Homo sapiens: one gene and its partners. The protein of the gene in region 2 interacts with the protein of the main gene of each other region in a pairwise test. Each region holds a gene or a part of one and is shown on either strand. Other genes may lie near its edges.

The links.
Region 1: the proteins of ORMDL1 (region 2) and EBP interact in binary tests that used the Homo sapiens proteins (3 or more experiments, as listed by UniProt).
Region 3: the proteins of ORMDL1 (region 2) and CREB3L1 interact in binary tests that used the Homo sapiens proteins (3 or more experiments, as listed by UniProt).
Region 4: the proteins of ORMDL1 (region 2) and REEP4 interact in binary tests that used the Homo sapiens proteins (3 or more experiments, as listed by UniProt).

The regions. Positions count from the first base shown.
Region 1 is NC_000023.11:48,524,808-48,529,248, forward strand, and holds the end of EBP (3-beta-hydroxysteroid-Delta(8),Delta(7)-isomerase), read left to right. Parts: intron 1-2,181; coding exon 2,182-2,218; intron 2,219-2,347; coding exon 2,348-2,478; intron 2,479-3,426; coding exon 3,427-3,650; 3' UTR 3,651-3,909; downstream 3,910-4,441. UniProt on the Homo sapiens protein: Isomerase that catalyzes the conversion of Delta(8)-sterols to their corresponding Delta(7)-isomers a catalytic step in the postlanosterol biosynthesis of cholesterol.
Region 2 is NC_000002.12:189,774,311-189,781,342, reverse strand, and holds part of ORMDL1 (ORM1-like protein 1), read left to right. Parts: intron 1-5,626; coding exon 5,627-5,778; intron 5,779-7,032. UniProt on the Homo sapiens protein: Plays an essential role in the homeostatic regulation of sphingolipid de novo biosynthesis by modulating the activity of the serine palmitoyltransferase (SPT) in response to ceramide levels.
Region 3 is NC_000011.10:46,273,220-46,280,663, forward strand, and holds the start of CREB3L1 (cyclic AMP-responsive element-binding protein 3-like protein 1), read left to right. Parts: upstream 1-4,442; 5' UTR 4,443-4,892; coding exon 4,893-4,994; intron 4,995-7,444.
Region 4 is NC_000008.11:22,138,908-22,146,093, reverse strand, and holds the start of REEP4 (receptor expression-enhancing protein 4), read left to right. Parts: upstream 1-4,186; 5' UTR 4,187-4,611; coding exon 4,612-4,643; intron 4,644-5,396; coding exon 5,397-5,469; intron 5,470-5,845; coding exon 5,846-5,922; intron 5,923-6,010; coding exon 6,011-6,131; intron 6,132-6,564; coding exon 6,565-6,678; intron 6,679-7,032; coding exon 7,033-7,168; intron 7,169-7,186. UniProt on the Homo sapiens protein: Microtubule-binding protein required to ensure proper cell division and nuclear envelope reassembly by sequestering the endoplasmic reticulum away from chromosomes during mitosis.

The DNA of each region.
Region 1 (4,441 bases), on a different chromosome or scaffold from region 2:
CCTCCCCAGTAGCTGGGACTATACTATAGGTGCACACCTTTATGCCTGGCTAATATTTTCACTTTTTTGTAGAGACAAGGTCTTGCTATGTTGCTCAGGCTGTTCTTTAACTCCTGGGCTCAAGCAATCCTTCCACCTCAGCCTCCCAAAATTCTGGGATGACAGGTGCGCACCACCGTGCCCAGCCTTATTTAACTTTTTTGTTGCATGTATATTCACGTGGGTCAAAAAACCATTTAAAGAGATTTGCAGTGAAAATCTGCTTTCTATCCACTAAGTTTCCCCAAACGCTGTTAGGCACTGTTGATAGTTGTTTATGTTTCTTTTCAGTTTATTTACACACGTAAGTCTCAATTTGCTCAATTGTAAAAGGAGGATAATAGTAATAACCAACTATATGTAAGATACTTAGAACAGTGTTTGGCAAACAGTGGTTGCCATGTAACTGTTCACTATTATTATCATTATTTGCACTTTTCCCTTTTTACACAAATGGTAATATGCTATATATACTTCTAATCTTTTCTCTTTTTCTTTCTTTCCTTACAAGAAAACCAAAGAAGCCATTTTCTTTTTTGAGACGGGGTCTCGCTCTGTCACCCAGGCTAGAGTGCAGTGGCATGATTATAGCTCACTGCAACCTTGAACTCCTGGGCAATCAAGCAATCCTCCTGCCTCAGCCTCCCTAGTAGCTGGGATTATAGGCATGTGCCACCCCACCAAGTTATTTTTTTTTTAACAACTTTTTTTTTTAAGAGATGGCGTCTTGCTTTGTTGCCCAGGCTGTTCTCCAACTCCTGGCTTCAAGTGATCTGCCCACCTCAGCCTCCCAAAGTGCTAGGATTACAAGCATGAGCCACCGCACCCAGCTGCTTTTTTTAATGAGGTCACTCCTCATGATTTCATAAAGAGCTTTCAAAGCATGGACATTGTACAGTTGCTTGACTTGTGTAGTATTGATGGGCATTTTCCCTCAATCTTCTGCCATTATAAACAAGGCCGGGCAGAGTGGCTCATGCCTGTAATCCCAGCACTTTGTGAGGCGAAGGCGGGCAGATCACCTGAGGTCAGGAGTTTGAGACCAGTCTGGCCAACATAGTGAAACCCCGTCTCTACTAAAAGTCTAAAAATTAGCTGGGCGTGGTGGCAGGTGCCTGTAATCCCAGCTACTCAGGAGGCTGAGGCAGGAGAATCTCTGGGACCTGGGAGGCGGAGGTTGTGGTGAGCTGAGATTGCGCCACTGCACACTCCAGCCTGAGCGATAAGAGCAAGGCTCCGTCTCAAAAAAAAAAAAAAAAAAAAAAAACATTACAGGCATGAGCCATTGTGCCCGGCTGGTCAGATGTTTCTTAAATTTTAGTCATTCCAGTAGATGTGAGTGATATCTCATTATGGTTTTAATTTGCTTTTCCTTAGTGACTAATGGAAGTTTGAACATCTTTCATATACTTATTGGCCATTTAGAAATCCTCTTTGTGAAGAACCTATTCAAGTCTTCTGCCTATTTTATATTGGATGATCTTTTTCTTTCTTTCTTTTTTTTTTTTTTTTTTGAGACAGGGTCTTACCCTGTTGTCCAGGCTGAGCACTGTGGTGCTATCATAGCTCACTGCAGCCTCAACCTCCTGGGCTCAAGACATCCTCCCACTGCAGCCTGGGACTGTAGGCACGTGCCACCACGTCCAGCTAATTTTTGTATGTTTTATAGAGTTGGGGGTCTCACTATATTGTTCAGACTGGTCTTGAACTCCTTTATGCAAGCCATCATCCCACCTCAGCCTCCCAAAGTGTTGGGATTACAGGCATGAGCCATCGTGCCCGGCGGTCTTTTTCTTTCTGATTCTCTGCTCACTCTTGTATTCACTCATCTGTTCACCTACATTCTCTCTCTCTCATTGGCTACTTCACTCACTCCATCATCTACACCTGCTTCCTTTTATACCACACACACTTCTTGAGTACCAATCACAGCCACACTGTTTTGTGTCAGGCTTTACACATATTACCTTGTTTTAGAGAAATAAACCACTAGAATCCAAACAGTTACCCCATTTCACGGATGAGGAAGCAGACGCATGGGAAGGTTATGAAGTCTGTCTTCTTGCAGGGACCCCCAGCTCTCACAAGTGTGTGTTCCTTTCACTGCCTTTATTCTTCATATCTCTCTCTTCTTTTCTTCAGGGAAAGAGTATGCCAAGGGAGACAGCCGATACATCCTGTAAGTGTTTGCCTCTGTCAATGGAGACTGGCATTGGTTTTCGGGGGGTGGTGAGTTGGGGAGCACTAATGGGCTAACCTGTAGGAAGAGCACACCGATACCAGTGTCCCCTCATGCTTTCTCCTGCAGGGGTGACAACTTCACAGTGTGCATGGAAACCATCACAGCTTGCCTGTGGGGACCACTCAGCCTGTGGGTGGTGATCGCCTTTCTCCGCCAGCATCCCCTCCGCTTCATTCTACAGCTTGTGGTCTCTGTGGGTAAGGAAAGGGCACTAGAGGGGCACTGGGCACTAGAGGGGTTGATGGGGGATCCACAGACACAGATGTATCCCTGTGGGTGGGATCTCTCAACGGTGCCCTTCCAGGGGTAAGTCAGACTGAATGACAAACCCCCTGAGGCTCTGGAAAGGTCATGCCCTTCTCTGAGCCTGCACTCTCAGGTGGGGAGGGTTCATTTTTCTTCCTCCTCCTCCTTCTCCATCACAAAGTCTCCTGTGAAGGTTACATGAGGTGGCCCAGGGTGGCAAGAAGCCCCTGGAACCTCCAGGATCAGGGCTCTGAGATCCCTTCATGTAAGATTCTGTCATATTTTTTTTAAAACAGGGTCTGGCTCTGTCACCCAGGCCAGAGTGCTATGGTGTGATCTCGGCTCACTGCAACCTCCACCTCCCAGACTCAAGCGATCTTCCTGCCTCAGTCTCCTGAGTAGCTGGGACTACAGGCATGTGCCACCGTGCCTGGCTAACTTTTGTATTTTTAGTAGAGATGGGGTTTCGCCATGTTGCCCAGGCTGGTCTCAAGCTCCTGAGCTCAAACAGTCCTCCTGGCTTGGCCTCCCGAAGTACTGGGATTACAGGTGTGAGCCACTGTGCCCGGCCTCAGTCATCTTGTGTTATTAAATTGTTAGCTTTCTTTAGTTCTAGCGATATGAGTTATCTTTAGTCCCAGAATCCTAAGCTGTCTTGGATTTGAGGATTTTGAACTTCCTTAAATCTGAAGGTGTGAGCTCTCCTGAGTTCTGAAATTCTCAGCTCTCTGGTGTCTGGAATCTCACTTTTCTGATTTCTCAGATTTTCAGCTCTGTGATTTCAGAATACTTAGCTCTGAGACCTTGAATGATGACTTGGAAAGTGCTTTGGAATAGAGAATTGGCGAAAGTGTCCCCTTCCTCACTGGGGCTTCTCCTTCCCCTCCTGCCACCCACAGGCCAGATCTATGGGGATGTGCTCTACTTCCTGACAGAGCACCGCGACGGATTCCAGCACGGAGAGCTGGGCCACCCTCTCTACTTCTGGTTTTACTTTGTCTTCATGAATGCCCTGTGGCTGGTGCTGCCTGGAGTCCTTGTGCTTGATGCTGTGAAGCACCTCACTCATGCCCAGAGCACGCTGGATGCCAAGGCCACAAAAGCCAAGAGCAAGAAGAACTGAGGAGTGGTGGACCAGGCTCGAACACTGGCCGAGGAGGAGCTCTCTGCCTGCCAGAAGAGTCTAGTCCTGCTCCCACAGTTTGGAGGGACAAAGCTAATTGATCTGTCACACTCAGGCTCATGGGCAGGCACAAGAAGGGGAATAAAGGGGCTGTGTGAAGGCACTGCTGGGAGCCATTAGAACACAGATACAAGAGAAGCCAGGAGGTCTATGATGGTGACGATTTTTAAAATCAGGAAATAAAAGATCTTGACTCTAACACTGAGAGATCCTTAATTACTAACCCCAGAGATGCGCTATGACTGACCCCACAGATCCCACCATCATTCACTTATTCCAGACCCCCATCAGCATCTAAAGACCTCCCACCTCTGACCTCACAAACCCCTATCACTGACCCCCCGCCAGACCCCATAACTCACTACACAGACCCTATCACTGGCCCCACAGTCCCCTGGTCTTAACTCGAGCTGCCATAACAGAATGCCACAGACTAGGCTTAAACCACCGAAGTTCATTTTCTCACAGTTCTGGAGTCCAAGATCAAGGTGTCAGCAGGTTTGACTTCTCCTGAGGCCCCTGTCCGTAGCTTGCAGGTGGCCACCTTCTCAGTGTCCTCACATGGTCTCTATGAACTAGCGTCCCTGTCCCTGGTGTCTCTCTGTGTGTCCAAATTTCCTTTTTTTTTTTTTTTTTTTGAGACAGGGCCTCGCTCTGTGTCAGGCTGGAGTGCAGTGGTATGATCATGGTTCACTGCAGCCTCTACCTCCCTGGCTCCAGCGATCCTCCTG
Region 2 (7,032 bases):
AGGATTTTAATTGAATCCAGTTTAGCAGTACATTTGTTGAAAGATATTTTTTAAAATGAACTTAAAGCATTAAGACAGGAAAACAGGAGAAATTGATTTTTAAAAATTAATATTTATTTTGGCCAGTCACGGTGGCTCATGCCTGTAATCCCAGTGCTTTGGGAGGCTGAGGTGGACAGATCACTTGAGCTCAGGATTTCAAGACCAGCCTGGGCAACATGGTGAAGCCTGAAATTCTGTCTCTACAAAAAATACAAAACCTTAGCCTGGCATGGTGGCAGCACATCTATAGTCCCAGCTATTCGGGAGGCTGAGGTAGGAGAATCGCTTGAGCCTGGGAGGTGGAGGTTGCAGTGAGCCAAGATCGTGCCACTGCACTCCAGCCTGGGTGACAGTGAGACCCTGCCTCAAATAATAACAATAATATTTATTTTCTATCTTCTGGAGTATATTTGAAGTTGACTGGAGGAGGATAAGAATGATGTGCTGGTAGACATGATAAATATGTGTCCATTTAGTCCATTTTATGTGATAGACTTTGTAAGAGCAAACGATGTTTTCTTTTAAATAGTGACTTCTCTGAAATATTTTACACTAATCATCTCACTTTTGTTGAAACTTCCTTTGGCTTCTATAGGATCACTTTCACCGGCATATATTTCTGACCTTCTCTTTCTTCTTATGGGGTCTTCCTTCTCTTTTCCTCTCTTAAATATTTCTATTCCCAAGGTTCTTTTCTTCATCTCTTCTTATGCTATGTATTCTACCTAGGTTACTTCATCTACCCATATTTTCAGTTTCTACCTGTAGAATAAGGATGCTCCTATTTATTTTTATCACCAGATTACTTTGCACCTTAAACCAAACAAGTATAAATGGAACTTATCTTATTCCTGATTACTCCCTTACCACCCACAATCTGATCCTCTGGCTTCACTACTAATCTTATCTAAAGGCCAAGCCAGACAGCTGAATGTTAATGGTAAAGCAATTAATATACAGGTTGAGCATCCCTAATCAGAAACCCAAAATAGAAAATGTTCTAAAATTAGAAACTTTTTTAGCACCAGTGTTGTGCCACAAGCGGAAAATTCCATACCTGACTTCCTGACAGGTTGCAATTAAAATGCAATCAAAACTTTATTTCATGCACAAAATTATTAAAGATACTATATAAAATTATCTTTAGGCTGTGTGTGTATGATGTATATGAAACATAAATGAATTTCATGTTTAGACTTGGGCCCTGTCCCCAAGATATCTCATTATGTATATGCCGATATTCCAAAATCCAAAACAATCCAAAATCTGAAACACTTCTGCTCCAAAGCATTGTGGATAAGGAATACTCAACCTGTAATGTATAGTCCAAACAGGCTGTTTAGAGAGTAAAATGGAGCTTTGGTAATAACTACTACAAGAGATTAGGTATAATCAGAACCATCGTATGCAAACAAGAATACAAGGTCACCTAAGTCTTAGGATAACTTCTTTTCCTTTATATTCCATATCCATTTGCTCAGAGCACTGTCTTCTACTGCTTTACTCTCAACTTGATCCCCATACCCTCATTTTTTCCTCAAGTAAATTACTCAGATAAATCAAATAGTCTTCTTGATGCTTCTCTACCCTTCTCCATTCCAGCTTGGCAGAGTGATGTTTTAAAAATGCATGTTTGCTCAAGTCATACTCTAAGTCATTCAGTGATCATCCATTGCAGTCATGGTAAAATCCAAGTTTCTTGTGTGACATATAAGACCAGTTGATAACAGTGCAGAAACAAGGAGACTTCACCTTGTCTCAACCATCTCTAAATAGAGGCTATACACTAGCAATAAAGAAAATCATCTTGCTCTCATTTTATTGTTTTGGCTTAAGCTTTTCTACTATATTTTCTTTTCACCTGGACCAAGTACTCTTTTGTTTTTAAGAGACTGGCGTGATCATAGCTCCTCCCACCTTAGCTTCCCAATAAATTTGAGGACTGCAGGCACATGCCACCACACCCGGCTAATTTGTTTTTATTTTAATAGTGATAGGCTCTCACTATGTTGCCCAGGCTGGTCTTGAACTCCTGGCCTCAAGCAGTCCTTCTGCACCATCCTCCAAAAGTGCTGGGATTACAGGCATGAGCCAGCATGCCCAGCCATTTTGTTTTTCTTACAGAGACAGGGTCTCACTCTGTTACCCAGGCTGGAGTGCAGTGGCATGATCATAGCTCACTGCAGCCTCGAACTCCTGGTCTCAAGTGATCTTCCTGCCTCAGCCTTCCAAGTAGCTAGGACTATAGGTGTGTGCCACCATGCTCAGCTGATTGACTGATTGAGATGGGGGTCTTGCTGTGTTACCCAGTCTAGTCTCAAACTCCTGACCTCAAGTGATCCTCCTGTCTCAGCCTCCCAAAGCATGAGTGAGCCATAGTACTCAGGGTCTACTTTTATTTTTTTTGAGATGGAGTCTCTCTGTGTCATCCAGGCTGGAGTGCAGTGGCGCAATCTTGGCTCACTGCAACCTGCACCTCCCAGGTTCAAGCAATTCTCCTGCCTCAGCGTCCTGAACAGATGGGACTACAGGCATGTGCCACTACACCTGGCTAATTTTTGTATTTTTAGTACAGATGGGGTTTCAACATGTTGGCCGGGCTGGACTTGAACTCCTGACCTCAGGTGATCCACCTGCCTTGGCCTTCCAAAATGCTGGGATTACAGGTGTGAGCTACCATGCCCGGCCCAGTCTCTACTATTTTAATACCTCTCCCTCCTTCCTGCTCTGCCTGATTTCCTACAGCAAAACTGTCCCTCCAGGAATCTACACAACTCCCATGCTGCATTCTTTTATCATGTGTTTGTCATTGTTTTATAATTAGCAGTTTATCTCTTTATGTTTTAATTTTTGTATCGCTAAGAACGTATTTAAATGTTTGCCGAATAAGTTAGTCCTTTTTTTTTGAGACGGAGTTTCACTCTGTCACCCAGGCTGGAGTACAGTGGCACGATCTTGGCTCACTGCAACCTCCCCCTCCTGGGTTCAAGCGATTCTCCTGCCTCAGCCTCCTGAGTCGCTGGGATTACAGGTGTGCACCACCATGCCTGGCTAATTTTTGTATTTTTAGTACAGACAGGGTTTCACCATGTTGGTCAGGCTGGTCTCGAACTCCCAACCTCAGGTGATCTGCCCGCCTCGGCCTCCCAAAGTGCTGAGTGTGAGCCACCACGGTTTAGATGCCATCCCTGTACCACCACCACCCCCTAACCGTGTTTCAAGTTGGTTGACCATGGACAAATGATTGGTAATTGACATTGTATAGAAAAGCAAACTTCTGATTTATTTGTTATTAGTTCACCACACTAAAAACTTAATTAGCCATCGGAGTTGCAATTACATGACTCCAAATTTAAGTTTCCTTTGAATATAGCCACATTAAACCAATTAAAAATCTGAAGTACATATTGAATGCCTTTAAAAATGAGAAAATGGACCTAATTGTTACACCCGGTTAGAAAAATACAGTATATTTGCCTTTCTGAACCGTACAGTAGAAACCTACAGTGGTTGCTTTATTAAGTGCTACCTCACCCTTAGAGGTATTAATGCTTCACAGGATTCTTGGCCCAGCTTTAAAAATGAATGATTCATTTTGATTCAGTAGGTATTTAGTAAGGACTAAGCATGAGCTACATACTTTTGTTCTCTAATTCTTTTAATGGAGGAATAATAATCACAAACATTTTTACATAAAAACAATTTAAAAAATATTGGGGCAGTAGATATATGGCCAGATAAGATTTTATTATTTTTCACTGAAAAGATGTATAAAATAAACTGTTTTGATATTCTAAACACTAGTTAAGTACATATGGTTTGAAGGAAATAATGAGAGGATGATTATTCTCTTATATTCTAATATCTATGTGGTCTGGAATAGATGTTCTTAACTTTTTGGGGGTCCTATACCCCCGATGATTTGAAAACATATACTTTCTGTTTTATAATTCACTTTAAAGTCCATATGAAAATGGTTTCGTAGAGCTTACAGAATAAATACTCCTTGGCGTAATGTCATCTTCCAACATTTCTAATGTTGGAAGTGTCCAATGTCTAATGTCTTGCGGTGTCCCAGTGCTTATTCCGAGTGTATTCAGGCTAATGGGAAAACAAACATCATGCAAACAACTCTAACATGATATATTGTACTGTAATCGTATTTTCAATAAAATTGTATACAACTACATAAAGAGGAGATTAATTATTACTAATGAGGTAGGTTTTTCTAAGGAATTGTTATTTGAGCTGAACCTTTAAGAATGAGGTAATGAAGTAGCATCAAGACTTTTGGCACAGCAACAAGGAACCTTTCCCTCCCCTGCCATTTGCTGAGTATTCTGATTGTACCTTTGATAGCAATTTCTGCCCTACTTTCTAGCTGTTTATGCATTTTTTTTCCTTATCATCTCTTGGAGGATTGAATTTTTCCAAGGCTTGGGTACATCTCATTCAATTTCATATGTGCATATATGTCCTATGTCTTGTACATATAAGCCACCTATTAAATGTTTGATGGGTTAAATCCAATTGAACATGAGTCCTTTCCTCCATAGCTTACGTGTTATTGTAGCTAAACGACTTCTGAATTGCCTACTGGAATAACTAGGAAGTAGACTAAGCCTTGAAAGGAAGGGCTTGGTTAAGTTGGTATCATATAAAATTTCAAATCCCTAATTTTTCTATATAATCATTAAAAGTAGAGGTAGGAAAAATGACATCACATTGTGGCGTCTAGAAGGAAAAACTTTGTGTCATGATAATATTTAGGCATTATCCCTTTACATAAAGTGCCTCAAGCAGTGATCCTGAATGAAACACTGCCTATGAGTCTAAATGGGTATCATAATCTCAAGGAAACCAAATCTATAGATTGGTTTTTTTCTACCCTATTGATAAAAAAAATTATATGTTTAGACATATGATCTGACAGAATGGCTTTTAGTAATGTTATTTGCTTTGAGTTTTTAAAACTGACTTCAGAAGAAATGCTATTGAGGCACAATAGCGATTTAAAAAGGGAATTGAGTGGAACATTATACCTATTATATCAAACTATTTTTATTGCTTTGGAAGAGAACTATTAAGGCAAAGGCAGTCATCATATTAAATATCTCAAAACTATTTTTCCCAATAGATTTTAATCATTTTATTGTTTTCTACCACTTTGTATGTCTTTATCATTTTTTAAGTATCATCAAATTTACTAATATACCCTGAAGAAAAACCTCCTGTACATTGGGGAAAAAGTAATCCTATTTCCTAATAGGAAAAGTGTAAGAAAATCTGAATGTAAAGATATGAAGCTACCCTGATAATTATTTTTAGTTTAACGAATAGAAATGCAAACAGGTTACTTTCAGTTGACCTTTTACCAATTCTCACTTAATATTTTTATACCCCAGAAAGTTCTATTTTATTATAAAGAAACTGGCTACAGCCTTTCACTATTATATGAAAGCTTAAAACGAACTCAGTTAAATCACACACTCTCACAAACAGCTTGGAACCTCGTTAATGCTACTGACAAAGACTAATTTTGTATTTAATATTGATCATTTATAACCCCTTGCTTGTTTTCCAGGGGATGTACGTATTTTTGCATGCAGTGAAAGGAACACCTTTCGAAACTCCTGACCAGGGTAAAGCAAGGCTCCTAACTCATTGGGAACAACTGGACTATGGAGTACAGTTTACATCTTCACGGAAGTTTTTCACAATTTCTCCAATAATTCTGTAAGTGGCAGAAATTTTTAGGTATGAGGAGGATTGGATAAGAGGAAGATATCTTTTCATCAGATTGAATTGGAATTAGAAACATATTTTGTTGCAAACTTCTATCAATAAGTAGCACCTCGGATAGAACATAAAATATAGACAAAATTTTTAACAAGTTGATAATAAACTAATTTTCACTTCAGTCAGTACATATACGGAGACAATATTACATGCTAATCAGTGCACCTAGACATTTAGGATATACAGGTCAAATGTATTCCAGCTCCCGTCCTTAGGTTTCATATAAGGACACAAAATACATAATCATATTCTATATTGCACTGTCAGATTAATCTCCTTAAGCAATGATTTAGATAATGAGAAGAATTTCACTGGCCACCTATCCTATTAAGATATTCAGACTCCTTGGGAAAGAGTATGGTTTCGAAAAAAGTAGGTCAGGCTTTCATTATAGGATAGACCTGGGTGGAGTCCTATATATATCACTCAGCCAGCTTGGTTTGCTCATATATAAAATTCTAGCTAGTGATACCTAATTCAATCCTAATGCTGTAAGAAATAAATGAGATAATAATCTACCTGGATAGCATGTAACCTGTATCTGGTATCTAATTTCTTTCTCCTATCTGATGTTCTGGGCCTTCCAGAAAATAGTTCTTACCTCCTTTTCCCTTGATGTAAATATTTTATCCCCACCCAACTCCTACCTGGCCTTCTAAGCAGCATTTCTTGAATATTTCATGTGTAGTCCTATTTCTGTCTTTGTTCAAATCAGTTCAAATCATATCTCCTACCTGAAATGCCTCCTCCTTTTTTCCCCAGCTTTACTGAGGTATAATTGACAAATAAAAAAATGTATATATGTTTTATTTTGTCTCTCCAAAGAATTTATAAGTGCATGGATTGCTTTGAATCCCACAGTAAGTACAGTGGCCTACACATAATAGAGGTATTGCTCATATATCTTAATACTCTGTACCATCTAGCCTATACATAATAATGTCCATGATAGAGTCAGTGCAGCCTGGCATAGCACAAAAGACTTCTTGGAGGTGTTGGAAATCCTTATGTTAGAACTTAAGAGAGACTAGGTTTTAGATATTTAAGTAAGGGAAGGCATTTTTAAAGTGAAAGGAATAAACTGATCATAAAATAATGGGGTTCTTTTTCCTTAATTTATAGCCCTTTGAGGAAATTTTGAATTGATTTAGTCCCATATAATATTAACCTCAAAGAAAAGTGTCAGTGTAG
Region 3 (7,444 bases), on a different chromosome or scaffold from region 2:
GCCCAGTGAGCAAATTCAGTTCAACTGGGGTGAGTGGAAAGGGCTCTGGGTGCGGAGCCGGGAGGCCCTGGTTTCAGTCCTATCTGCCTCATGAGGCTGGGTGACTTAAGGCAAGCCTCTGATGGCCCCAGGCCTTGGTTTTCTATAAAACGAGAAGAGGCAAGTCATATAAACTCTCTGAGCCTTGGTTTTCTCATCTGCAGATTAGGGATGATAATAATATCATGTTGATTCTAAGGTGTCATCAATTACATGATGCACCACTATTTTATGTACTTCAGGAAGGAAAAAACATCATCCATTAAACTATGACAGACCATCGATCATAAGACACATTCTGATTTCAGAGATGTTAAAACATTGAGGAAATGTGCATCTCAGAATCAGTGAAAGACGATACTTATCTCACAAGCTTGTTCCAAGAATTAAACAAGATGATAAAAAGTATTTAGTGCCTGGCACAAAGCAAGTACTAATAAATGTCCGGTATTTTTATGGTTCAGGGTTGGGTGGAAAGGGATCACAGGCCAAAGGGGTGGAAAGGAGAGCCCTAAACTAAGTGAGAGCTGGGGTTCTGAAACCCACCCTGCTCCTGGTAGAGTGCCACCTCAGGCTCCATGTCCAGCCCCAGTGGGGGGCACAGGGAAAGCAGCCATGCAGCCCAATTTAGGGAGCTGCTAGAGAACAGAGGGCCCCGTCTGCACCCCGGAAGTCAGTCTAATCTCCAGGATGAATATGTTTTCATTTCTCAGAAGTTCCTGTTAGAGTGTGCCAAAGCATTTTTCCCTTTACAACCCAGGCAAACAAGACAAGTTTACTTTGGGTGACCTTATTATCACCACCCAGGGCCTGCCTGCTGAGTGTAAACACCAGCTTGCACCCTCCTGGAGGCTCTGGGCAGAAGCCTGGATAATCAAAGTACCAGGCCTCCTGAGCGGGGAGGCCCTTCACACTCCCCCGACCCCTACCCCTGCTCCCCAGGCCCTGTCCTGGAAAGGGCACATTGGAAGATCCTTGGAGAGGATGAAACCCTAGAGGGCATCAACACCTCGCCCATTTCATAGCTATGGAAACGGAGACCCAACGAAGGGCAGTGACTCTACACACACACACACACACACACACACACACACACACACACACACACCCCATTCTACTCACAGCTCAGCCTGGCAGGAGCCTCTCTCTCTGCCTGATCCTCAGTGTCTGGAACAGGCAAGAAGCTTATCTCTGTCCTCTTTCTCCTGTGCGTCATTGACTGCGTTGGGATGCCTTTATGCATGAAGCTTTTGCTTCACAGTTGGAACAGCTCATGGAGAGCAGCAACCAGGTGTTCCTGAGCCCGTCACAGAAGGAGCTGCCATCAGTGCCTCTCGTGACCTGCAGTATTTGGGCCTGTGGAGGTGGTGTTTGCAGAGCCAACGTTGGCCTCCATCCCCTAACTCCTTCAGATGTAAAGGAGGGGCCTTGGTGGGGGGTTGGGTTGTGGGACCAGGCCCAAGAACTGGGAGGGAGGGAGCAAACCCTCCCTGCTGGGTTAGAAGGCAGACTTAAGACCCAGGGAGACATCTCATTTCATCTCCTGGAAAATCTTTAATAGACAAGAGAGAAGGGATGTGTGACTGACCACACCCTACAGAAGGCTTTAGGTGGGCACAGTTCTTTCCAGTCCTGGCACAGAATAGAGCCTGGGCTTCAGTGTGGCCATAAGTACGGGGTTTGTGTAGGGCATTGGGGTTTCGCCCTCATCATCTCACTCCTGCGCCACTGCCTGTTCTTCCCAGTCCGGCCTTCCTCCTCTTTCTCTTCTACTTGCTGTTCCCTCTGCCTAGAATGTTTTCCCTGCATTTTGCCCCATAAATGACCCCAGTTCTTGATTCAGTTCTCAGTTCACATGTGGCCTCTTCAGAGAGGCCTTCCTTACCCAAAGAGTCACATCACACTATTTTATTTTTTCATAGTCCTTACCACTCTCTGAAATCATCTTCTTAACATTTTTTTACCCACCCACCTCTGTACAAACACGTTTACTCTGGGATCCAGGTTCTTAATCACTGCTGTGTCTCCAGTGCCTAGTCTCGGAACCATTCACAGTAGGTACTCAATAATGCTTGTAGAATGTGTGAATAAATCTGCGATCATCCTCATCTCTGCTGGACTTTGCCATCCTCTTCATTCCAGAAAGAAAATGATCACACTCCTCTGTGTGCCCGGCTCTACACTGCCTGGTCTCCCTCCTCCCCCTGCCACCCCTTTCCCCAGGATTTCTCTTGGGAGATTCTGCCTCTCAGACTCCGCAGAAGCTGCTGGAACCAGAATGGCTCCCCAGGATTATTTTCAATGGTTTCCTGGGGTGTTCACCTGGGTAAGAATAAGGAAAGAGAGGACACTCTAATCCTACTTATCTAAAACTATATAATCTTCCCCAATCACTTAAATGGTACCTGTGTCTCTAATTACAGAGCAGGCTGGGAGGAACACAGGCACAATTTCCAGCCAACCTCAGGCGGGGGGCCACTTTTTCTCCTCCTGGGGGCCTGTAGGGACTATAGCTTAGTAGCCAGGACTCCAGACACCTGCTGCTGGAGCTCACTCACGATAGCCTGTTCACCCAGCCAGAGACCCCTCCCCTCCCCCTGAGAAGTATCAGCCACATCCCAGTGTTTGAATGGTCCCCATTTGGCCAGATGTGACGCATTTGGGGAAGACACCCATGGTCCCAGCACCCTAATTCTACCCGCCACTGTTGTGAAAGTGAATTGATTTCTTTTTGGCCCAGCCTTACTTCTCGGAGTTGCATGGCTGGTGAACTGGTCCCCAGAGCATGGGTTATAATCCTACTTTCTCAGGAGCAAATTCTACAGGAGGCCTGGGAGCTAACAGTCATGTGACAGCCTGGAAGGTCAGAACTTCACTCTCCAGAACTATGTCAACTAGATCATAAGGTGGGGAAAAGCCACGTGACTGCCTGCCTGCCAGGGAAGCAAACAACTGCTGTCTCAGCCTTGGTATGAACCCTTCTCCCACCTGGTGCTGAGAGCAATTTTGGTGACATCCATGGCTTAGCTGCAATGACATCTCTACCTCTTAAAGGCCTTTGGTTCCTGAGCTAATTAAACGTCCCAGACAGAAAGGACATGCTTAATCTTATTAATAACTTCTGGTCAGGAAACAGTGTGCCCAGCCCTCTGAGGGAGTGCCTTTCTGAACCACCTCCATTTGTTCAGGTGCTTGGCGATTGCTATCAGCCCTTTCAAGAGATTAAGTTTGTACGCAGGAGCAAGCCACTTAGGTAATGGATCCCGGGGCCCTGGGAGTGTCTGGTGACTGTGGAGTGTGCAGCCAGCCAGCACCTTGGCTCATTCAGATTCCAGAACCACTGTTTTCCAACTTCCTGCTCTTCAGAACCATTGGGGGGTAGGGAGGGACTTGACTATCGAGGAGAAGAGGGGGACTCTCCTATCTCTGGCTGTTCACCCAGCCCTTTCACACAGAGGGAAGCTGGGGACTGTCCTTGCCCTGAGGAGCCTCACAGCTCAGTGGGGTCACAGATACAAACAATGTGAGCAAATAAGGACAATACCACATTAGACTGGAAACAGTGGAGGTGAGCACATGATGCCCTGTGGGTGTATACCGTTGGTAACTGCTCCAGCCTGGGGGTTCAGGGAAGGCTTCCTGGAAGAAGAAACAGGTGAGATGAGAAATGAGAGTTACAAGCTGAAAATCGGCTGGGCATGGTGGCTCACACCTGTAATCCCAGCACTTTGGGAGGCCAAGGAGGCCGGATCACCTGAGGTTAGGAGTTCCAGAGGAGCCTGGCCAACATGGTGAAACCCCGTCCCTACTAAAAATACAAAAATTAGCTGGGCGTGGTGGGGCGCGCCTGTAATTCCAGGTGCTCAGGAGGCTGAGGCAGGAGAATCGTTTGAAACTGGGAGGCGGAGGTTGCAGTGAGCCGAGAACACACCATTGCACCCCAGCCCGGGCAAAAAGAGCGAAACTCCGTGTCAAAAAAATAGTAATAATAATAAATAAAATTTTTAAAAAGCTGAAAATCTCCCCCGTTGAGGGGAGATCTGTTGAGGGGACTGTGAAATGGAATTCCCTGACTGGGTTTCGTGCAGGCTTTAGTATAAGGCTGGAAGGATGGAAATAGCTCCCTCATCAATTTACGGGACAGTGGTTGGTGAAGCCTTAAAATGCCAATGTTCCAGGAACACTGTTATCGGTTCCAGGACTATTGTTGCTTTAAGCCCCCACCTTGAGCATTCAGAGAAGAGAGATTACTAAGACGAAGTTGCAGATGTCTCTTTAAAAAAGGAGAGAGGATTCCTCGAGCCACGCCCTCTTCTCATTAATATTAAATTATTGTGAATATTGATGTGGGGGCGTGGCGCCTTGGCCAGCTGGGCTAGCCAGCCAGGGGTTCCCGGTTTCACAGAGAGGAAAGTGACAGAAGACGTGCGGAGGGAGACGCAGAGACAGAGGAGAGGCCGGCAGCCACCCAGTCTCGGGGGAGCACTTAGCTCCCCCGCCCCGGCTCCCACCCTGTCCGGGGGGCTCCTGAAGCCCTCAGCCCCAACCCCGGGCTCCCCATGGAAGCCAGCTGTGCCCCAGGAGGAGCAGGAGGAGGTGGAGTCGGCTGAATGCCCACGGTGCGCCCGGGGCCCCTGAGCCCATCCCGCTCCTAGCCGCTGCCCTAAGGCCCCCGCGCGCCCCGCGCCCCCCACCCGGGGCCGCGCCGCCTCCGTCCGCCCCTCCCCCGGGGCTTCGCCCCGGACCTGCCCCCCGCCCGTTTGCCAGCGCTCAGGCAGGAGCTCTGGACTGGGCGCGCCGCCGCCCTGGAGTGAGGGAAGCCCAGTGGAAGGGGGTCCCGGGAGCCGGCTGCGATGGACGCCGTCTTGGAACCCTTCCCGGCCGACAGGCTGTTCCCCGGATCCAGCTTCCTGGACTTGGGGGATCTGAACGAGTCGGACTTCCTCAACAATGCGGTAAGATGAAGGGTCTCCGTTCCCGTTCCACCCCTCGGCACCCGTCCTCGCGGCGCGCCTGGGCCCCTAGAAGGACCCGACTACACATCACTGGGCAGGAGCCGGGGAGAGGGTTCAGCGCAGGGTCTCCAGGAGCGACATGTGTTTGGAGCTAAGCGCCCCTCCTGGGGGCTCAATCTTTGAATACACTGGCCTCCACCTTCTAGGGGGAAGGGGCCATCGAGGTATCGGGTCCGTCCGATCCTCGGATCTGAGCTCAAGAGACACCAATCCCGCCCTCCACCCACGTCTTCTAGCCGTCCCCAACCCACCCCAGGTTCCAGGACCAGACTGGGCGCAAAGTGGCAGCGCCCTTTCCTGCGCCTCCCTTGGGGCTTCGGTGGCTCATAGGCTGGATCTCCGCTGGGGGGCGCACCGGGGAACGTTCAGAGGGCCTGAGACCCGACCCCTCGGGGAAGCCAGGCCCAGAAATTTCAGGGTGCTACCCTGGCAGCCCCAGGGAATCAGGCCCAGAGACCCCCCACCCCAGGGAGGGACCTGAGGCTGGGGGCTGGGAAGAGGCGGTCAGGGCAACATAGGGTGATGGCTCAGGAGGAGGGAGCCATTTCTCTCCATCTGCCTCTAGATCTCTGCTCTGTCCCTCTGTTCCTGGAGTCTGGCTGACTTTCTCCCTCTCCCTATGTCTTCTTGACTAGGTCCGACTGTGAGCTTGTCTTTCTCCTCTTTCTCACTCTTCCCCTCCCTCCCTAAGGAAACGTGGCTTCTCTCTCTTCTTCCCTCCCTCCCTCTCTCAGGCTCAGCCCTAAGGCCTTGATGGGGGAGGGGCACGGACTTAGAATGGGAGAAAATATTTGGGTTCAGAAGGGCCTGCCCAGATGAAATGTGGATTGTTTGGGGAGTCTAGTGGGAGCCCCCTCTTCAGTGAACCACCAGTTGCGTGTGCATGCCTGTTCACACGCCACACACACACACACACCCTGTGATCAAGCACTTGAGACTCTTTACCTGCTGACCTCTACCTCCCAGGACCAAGATAAACTTGGCCAGGCAAGAGTCAAGTCCTTAGAGGACTTGAGCATCTTGGACTTCCACCTAAACTGTCCCAGGCCACTAGATTGATGGTGAGGAACCAGGCCAAGGGACAGGAGCCGGAGTCAAGGAGGCATGGGGGCTGAGGTCTCCCTGTTCTCCATTAAGCAGCACATCCTGGTCACCCTGCGCTCTGAGGAAGGCCCCTGTCCCAGGCAGAGAGAGCATAATTCAGCAGACAAGACAAGGGTATAAGGGCAGAGGGCTTGCATTGACTGCAGCGAGACTTGGTTTCTAGTCCTGGCTCTGCTTCCCCTGTGAGCTTGGCCCCTACCACTGGCTCTCCTCCCTGAGCCTCAGTTTCTTTGTCTGTAAAATGGGGGAGAGGTTGGATCAGGTCTTCCTATAGATGGTTCTGGCACAGATCCCAGGAATAAAGCAGCAGGGATCGGGGGATCCACACCTCCTCTTGAAGCTGGTAAAAGACACTAGTCAGAGGGAAAGAGGTTTGTCAGAGCTCGGACCCTTGAAGTCAAGCAGGGCAGTAGAGCCCTGCAGTAAGCTTCTCTCGGCCCTTGGCAGCTCTGAGTTGGGCTTTCTTCTGAATGAACTCGGCCGCCCGAAGCCTCTTCCTGCTGCTCCATTCAGCCCTGCATCCCCAGCTGCTTATCTGGGCCTTGGTCCAGCACAGGAAAAGAGGCACGACCAGACAGTGGGATCCAGCACTAGGACACTGGGGAGGAAAAGCCCTGCTGGGGAGGCTCCTGATCTCGCACCTGGGGCAGCGCCAGGAGAGGCAGCGGGAGAAGATGGGGTGCCTAAGGAAAGAGAGAAAGGACTCTTGGGCTGGGAATCAGGAGATTTAATTCTGTCTCTGTTTCTGCCACCAGCCAGCGGGACAATTCAGAAAAGTGACTTTTCTTTTCTTGTTTTTTTTTTTGTTTTTTGTTTTTTGTTTTTTTTCAGACGGAGTCTTGCTCTGTCGCCCAGGCTGGAGTGCAGTGGCGCGATCTCGGCTCACTGCAAGCTCCGCCTCCCGGGTTCACGCCATTCTCCTGTCTCAGCGTCCCGAGTAGCTGGGACTACAGGCACCCGCCACCACGCCCGGCTAATTTTTTTTTATATTTTTAGTAGAGACGGGGTTTCACCGTGTTAGCCAGGATGGTCTTGATCTCCTGACCTCGTGATCCACCCACCTCGGCCTCCCAAAGTGCTGGGATTACAGGCTTGAGCCACTGCGCCCGGCCAAAAGTGACTTTTCTTCTTCTGGGCTTTGACTTCCTCATCTGAAAAATGGGAATATTAGAACTATAGCATTACTGTAAGCATTTCGAGAGAAAATTAAAGTGAAGGTTATGTAGCACAATGCCTGGCATGTAACGTTCATCGTTGGCTTGATCCATAGAGACTGGATGGGCGTG
Region 4 (7,186 bases), on a different chromosome or scaffold from region 2:
CCTGAGTAGCTGGGATTACAGTCATGCACCACCACACCTGGCTAATTTTGTATTTTTAATAGAGACGGGGTTTCTCCATGTTGGTCAGGCTGATCTTGAACTCCCGACCTCAGGTGATCTGCTGGCCTCAGCCTTCCAAAGTGCTGGGATTATAGGCGTGAGCCACTGAGCCTGGCTTTTTTTTTTTTTTTTTTTAAAGATGGAGTTTCTCTCTTGTAGCCCAGGCTGGAGTGAGGTGGCCCTGTCTTGGCTCACTACAATCTCCGCCTCCCAGGTTCAAGTGATTATCCTGCCTCAGCCTCTTGAGTAGCTGGGACTACAGGTGCCCACCACCACGCCTGGTTAATTTTTGTATTTTTAGGAGAGACGGGGTTTCACCATGTTGGCCAGGCTAGTCTCAAAGTCCCAACCTCAGGTGATCCGCCTGTCTCGGCCTCCCAAAGTGCTGGGATTACAGACGTGAGCCACCACGCTCAGCCATCGGTCTGATCTTTCTAACACACACTTTCCTCCTGTCCTCCCCTGCTCAGGAACCTGCCTTGGCTTCCTGCTCAACAAACCCATGAGCCTCTGCCCACCATGAAGGTTCCTGTGACCTGGTCCCACCGTACACACCCAAGCCCTGTGGGCAGTCAGGGTCCCTCAACATCTCTGTGAGTGGAGTCGAGAGAGTCTAAGACAGTCAGATGGGGGCCGGGTGGGGGACAGTGCTCAGGGTGTCAGTGCAAGTAATGGGGTCTCGGGGACAGCACACTGAATGGCAAAACAGGTGTTGTCAAGCTGTGGGGACCCCTTTTCTCCTCTTCCCCCATGGGCTTGAGTAAATGAAATCCTTTTGTGGCCTTGTGTGGGTTGGTGACAGTGTAAGGGACAGGGGATGGAAACGGGGGAAATGATAGATCCTTGGGCAGTGGTGCTTGCTGTGTGACCCTGGGCAGGTCAAATCCCTTCTCTGAGTCTCCAGGTTTTCATTTGTCCTCCAGAGCCCCTCTCAGCTCTCGCATATCACAAAAACCCTTCGTTTCTCTCTCTTCAGCGAGCACCTGTGAGCAGCTGTGCACAGAGGAGTGGGGTCTGGAGCCTGGATAACATGGGTGTGAATTCTGGCTCAGTCCCTTTCCATGGTGTGAGATTTCAAGCAAGTCAGCTGATTTCCCTGAGCTTCAATTTCTCCTTCTGTGAAGCAGATTTAAAAACCCCACTTCATGGGTTCCTGATTCTGCCAGCCGGGTGAAACCAGCTAGTAACATTCAGCCACGTTACTTAGCCTATTTGTGCCTCGGTTTTTCTTATTTATAAAATGAGTATAATCGTGATACCTACCTGACAGGGTTTGTTGTTTGTTTTTTCCAGCTTAGGCTGGAGTGCAGTAGTGCGATCTTGAGTCACTGCAACCTCAGCCTCCTAGGTTCAATTAATTCTCCTGCCTCAGCCTTCCAAGTAGCTGGGACTACAGGAGCACGCCCCCACCCCTGACTAATTTTCATATTTTTAGTAGAGATGGGTTTCACCATGTTCACCAGACTGGTCTCGAACTCCTGACCTCAATGATCTGCCGTCCTCGGCCTCCCAAAGTGTTGGGATTACTACAGGCATGAGCCACCGCATCCTACCCTGACAGGATTATTTCTCATGAGAGTGAAATGCATTAGTATATGTAAGTCCATTTGTATAGTGTGTCCAGCACATGATTATGATTTGCCTTGGTCTATGGGAATATATGAAAACAGAAGTGGCTCAGAGAGGGGTGTTTTGTGCAAGAGGAGGAGGTGGATCTTTGGAGAGAACTGTCTGTGGGTGATGGTTCCTCACCCATCCTCAGTCTTGGAGCCCCTGTGCCCCATATCTTACCTGCAGCCTCTGACCTGGCCTCCTCACCCCCAGCAATAGGTGACTTACCTGCTTTTCACCTCCTCAAATATGCTCTTAGCTTAGCAGGCACCTCCATCATTCTGGGGAGGCCTGTCCTTCTTTTCCAAATGGGAAACGGGCCCTTATCCTGTGCTTGGGAGAGGTTGCCAGGGAAAGTGGGTTGAGTCTCCCAGACACGCTGGCACTCTGCTGCCCAGTAGAAAGATAAATATCACTTTGACAGCTGCTGCCCCCAGGGGGGAGCTCTTCTGAGGGGTGGGAGGCACTTTCCTCCCTTGGCCCGAGTGCCTGGCTTTCTGTGTGTGCCTGCTGGGTCACTTGCCCTGGGGCTTGTCCACGTCCAGAGTGCTGCTTAGCAACCCAGTGGAATTGGGTGACTGTGTCAACAGCTCAGGACCAAAGGCTGCAAGAGGCAAGGTCTACTCACTCTGCCAAGACCAGGGATGGTGACACTCCTCAGCTGCCAGCCTCTTGCCCTCCGTGCTGAGCCTTGCTGTCAGCGCAGACCTCTGACATCTCTTCTCTGAGATTTCCCAAGCACAGGCATTGGGACCAGGAGTCTCCATACGGGAGACCATCCCAGCTGAATGAGCTTTGGGCGGGCCCAGGTAATGTTTCCCAGCAAATGGGGGTAGACAGAGGCCTGTGATGCTGAGGTCAGGTGCGTGGCCCCAGAAGGCAGCCAGCAGGGAAGGGACAGTTCTGCAGCACGCACCAAAGGACCCGAGGCTCACGTGTGCAGTGACCTCCTGAGTCATGGATGTCCCTTTCAGCTGCTCCCCTATTCAGTCACAGCTTTCCTCCTTCAGGGAGACCCAGGACACTTTTCACCTAGAGAACCATGTCTGTGCCTAAAGATGGACAGTGGCTGGGGCCTTCCTTAGGAGTTCCTCTAGCCCTTGGCCTTTTTGGTTACTCCAATGTGTGTGTGTAAGGGGGGACAGGTAAATGTGAGGGTTGGTTAAGAGAGGAGAGGGAGACATGGGGCCTCGGGGAAGTTTCTCCTGTGGGCTGGTTTCACTGCTGGCTCTCACACCCAGCAATACCAATAAAACTGATGACAGTAATTAAGACCATATAATCACCGTGTGTTTATTTATCCCCCAGAAGCCTCCTTTCCCTGGCCCCATGATTACCTATTCCATCCTTATGATAGCTGGTGGGGGTTAACTGTGGCTCCAATAAAAAGCAGTAACTGCCTGTGTTTCCACCCCACATGCCCGGACAGCTTTGCTCCCACCCTCTGCAAGGTGGGGGGACACTATTTTCAGAGGGAACAACAGAGGCAGTAAGCTGAAGATGTCAAAAAGAATGAAACCTCACAGGGCAAGTAGTAGAAGCAGCAACGTTTGCCTTCTTTTTTAGAGCCTTCCCCCTTCTTCCTGGCATCTGCCTCCCTCCCAGAGGAACTTATCCGGTTCCATGGCCCTCTGCAGGGCCACTCAGCCTGCAGCTGCTGATCTCTCAGAAGACTGATCAAGCCAAGCATGTAGCCACCAGCCAGCAATAAATACCACTGGGTGATACCAGGAAAGTTACTTTTCACCACTGAGCATCCTATTTCCTACATGGTTAAAAGAAGTTTGCAAAGACTAAGACCTTGCGTGCAAACGTGCATTACAAAATGGCAATGGTTGATACTACTATTAAGGGCCCAGGGTTATTTGTGTACTTGGCTCAGAGGAATAGGTGGAATTTCAAACTTCTGCTGAAGGAGTGTGGGAGCTGAGAGCTCTACCCAGAATGCCTCAAATCATCGCGGTCAGCCTGCCCCGGAGTCAGGGATCTGGAAAGGCATCCCAGAGAGAAGGGAACCCCTGAAACCTGGTGGGGCAAAAAGTCCCTCAGGTTCCCTCTCCCCCCACACCTCCCCCCTTTCCCTCCTGGACCCACTGGTGTGAGACCCGGACTTGCTGGCGCTCAGCCAAGCTTCCTTCCAGCTCCTGACTGAGCCTGCAGAGGAGATCCTTCCCTCTACCCCACCAACCGCATCTCATGCCTTTACCCGGTTCACAGAGGGGAAAATGAGGCGAGAGGGAAAGACACCGGGAAAAGCCAGTGAAGGGTCGCTTAAACTCTGGAGTCCAGATTTTCTTTGTGTGCCGACCCCCGCACTCCCCCTGCTTTTTTGTTACAGCTTCCCACACGCTAATCTTTCCGATTGGGAAGGTGGCTCCACTGTGGGCCCCACGCGCGAGTCCCGCGGCACATCGCCCCTTTAAGGGGCCGGCCTCTCGCCTCCCTGACCTCGCCCCGCCCCCTCCGGGGCTACACTGCGCCTGCGTGGCAAGCCGGAGCCCTGGGGTTGGGCAGCACTCGGTTCCGTGCAACTTTCAAGTGAGTTGCGAACTCCGCCCTGTAGGCCGGTGCTGGTGGCCCGGCGCGCTGGAACCGCGGCGACCCGCTCCAGCGCGGGACCAGCAGCAAGGGCCGAGCGCCAGGTTCTCCGCGGCAGAAAGGGCGGGTGGGAGCTGTAACTGCCCCGGCCGCGGGGCGCGCCCGCTCCCAAGTCGGCTTCCTCCCCGCCGGGGCCGCTTTGCCTCGGGTCTCCCCATTCTCCAGGTCCCCTGAACTGCACAGTCGGAGGCCGTGGGCGGCGGGCTCTGCCTCCGCCGAGGGACAGCCGGATCGCCCCTCTGCTTCCCGCAACTGCCCTGATCACCCCCCGTCCCAGCCCTTGAGTGAACGTCCTTCTGAGCGGCTTCCTGGGGTCCTCCCCACGTCCCAAAGGCCGGCAAGATGGTGTCCTGGATGATCTGTCGCCTGGTGGTGTGAGTATGGCCGCCCTCAGACCTCCTCTACCCCGGGGTGCCGTCCCGCCCCTGTGGTGGAAGCTGTGGACGTCTAGTGGGAGGAGGAACTTTCTGAGCTCCACCCTCCAGCACTCCATGCAAGGGTTAACGGACCTGTGGGCTTGCACGCGGTGTCTGGGGCACCGCAGGCTACCCGCCCCACCAAGCCTCGTTGGCTGAGAACGACCCCTGCCGCACGCCACACACACTGCAAACAGATGCGTGGAGCCGAGGGCCACAGGCCTACCTTGCTGCCCCTTGGCAAACACAAGGTGATATGGCACGTTGTGGGCGGAGAATCCAGGTGCCTGCTTGCCATCTGAGCAGTCACATGACTCACCATCCTATTCCTCACCTTTGAGTATGCCAACATCTGGCTCACATAGCCCTATCTGCAACCCAGCAGTGTCAGGTCTGGTGACCCTGGGCCTGATTGCATGCCCATGGGAGGGGACAGTCTGGTGTTCTCACCCACTTCGTGGAGTGGCTGTCCTCTCACTCCATCATGCACCCATGGGCCACCGGTGCAGGCCTGGGCAGGCTTGGGATGTTTGTAAACAGCAGGGTGGGGAGGTGGCCTCCAGGGCTCTGACTCAGGCACGGGTTGTACAAGCCAAGCGAGAAAAACAGGGCGGGTACTGCCACCTTGCACCCCAGTGGGGGGAAATGGCCACTTGGCAAGGTGGGAGTGGGGCATGGTGCCCCTCACACTCCCCATGGCTGCTCTTCCAGGCTGGTGTTTGGGATGCTGTGTCCAGCTTATGCTTCCTATAAGGCTGTGAAGACCAAGAACATTCGTGAATATGTGAGCGTGGGGGTTTGGGTGTGTTTAATAGGACTTGGTGAGGTGGGGAGGGTCTCAGTTGGCCTCTCCCTCCTCCAGGGGCAAGGCTGTGTGGCACATCCTGAGTGGAGTGGGGAGGGAGAGAGAATGGGCCCTGTTCAAGAGGGTGTAGATAGAGGGCAGGCCATCGGGGTGCCTGTGGAAGATCTGGTGGGTGAAGCTTGTTGGAGGCGGGCATAGGAATGAGCAGCAGTTTCTCAGAGCTCCTGTCCAGCCATGTGTGGGGGAAAGCAGCTATGCAGCCGGACAGGCTCCCTGGAATCTCTGGGCTGGGCTGGCCTGGGTTGGGAGTTGGTGCTGCAGGCCCCATGCTGACCTCTGGGCGCTCACCCCACAGGTGCGGTGGATGATGTACTGGATTGTTTTTGCACTCTTCATGGCAGCAGAGATCGTTACAGACATTTTTATCTCCTGGTATGGACGCAGGGTCCGCAAGCCATGGGTCAGGGGTGGCCCCCCCAGCCCTGCTCCTTGGCTCACCCTGCCCCTTGTGCTGTGACAGGTTCCCTTTCTACTATGAGATCAAGATGGCCTTCGTGCTGTGGCTGCTCTCACCCTACACCAAGGGCGCCAGCCTGCTTTACCGCAAGTTTGTCCACCCGTCCCTGTCCCGCCATGAGAAGGTACCCCAGGGGGAAGCGGGAAGGGAGGCTTAGGGGTGGGTATGAGGGAAAGAGCCCTGGACCTGGGATTTAGGATGCTGGGGACACCGGGGTTCTATCCCAGTCCTGCTGCTATTGAGGGGCAGGACCTTGACAGGGCCCAGCCTACCTCATCTTCTGGGATAATCAGGTGGGGGTACACATGAATGACCTTTGAGGATGGAAATTGGTTTGGGGGTAGTGGTGGCGGCAGCTGGAGCATGGCCACTCATGGAGGTGTGAGCGGGTGGCAGCCCTGCTCTTGGTCTGTGTTTGTGGCCCGGATTTGTGGCTCTGGGCACCAGGTGGGGCTGGGCTGGGCTGGGTGGCGCCACAACCAGTGGCTTCTCAGAATCTGCAGAGGAAGAGGGACTCTGGCTGTCCACCTGAGCTCTCCTCCCCATTGGGTCCACAGGAGATCGACGCGTACATCGTGCAGGCCAAGGAGCGCAGCTACGAGACCGTGCTCAGCTTCGGGAAGCGGGGCCTCAACATTGCCGCCTCCGCTGCTGTGCAGGCTGCCACCAAGGTGCTCTGGGCCCCCAGCCCTCCAGCAGCCCCCATCCCACCCCTAAGGCCCTTTGGGCTCATTCAGCTCCTCTGCCAGGGAGCCCAGAGATGGCAGCCGGGGAGCAGGGGTGAGAAGGTGACGGGGGGGTATTGGCAGAAGCGTGGAGCTGGAGTCAGACCTTCCTTCCTGGCTCTGGCACTGAGCGTAAGCAGCGGCTCCTGCTCTCTGACTTTGGTTTCCTGTTGGTGCCACATTGGCGCGGGGCCAGAAGCTTGCTGAGCAGTTTTCACTTCTGCGTCTCAGCTCCGGTGATTAGCTGGTTGGCCAATATCCCTGGGCAGCCTCCCCGCTGAAGCCTCTTCCCCCTCGCAGAGTCAGGGGGCGCTGGCCGGCAGGCTGCGGAGCTTCTCCATGCAGGACCTGCGCTCCATCTCTGACGCACCTGCCCCTGCCTACCATGACCCCCTCTACCTGGAGGACCAGGTGTCCCACCGGAGGCCACCCATTGGTGAGCGGGCAGAGGGGC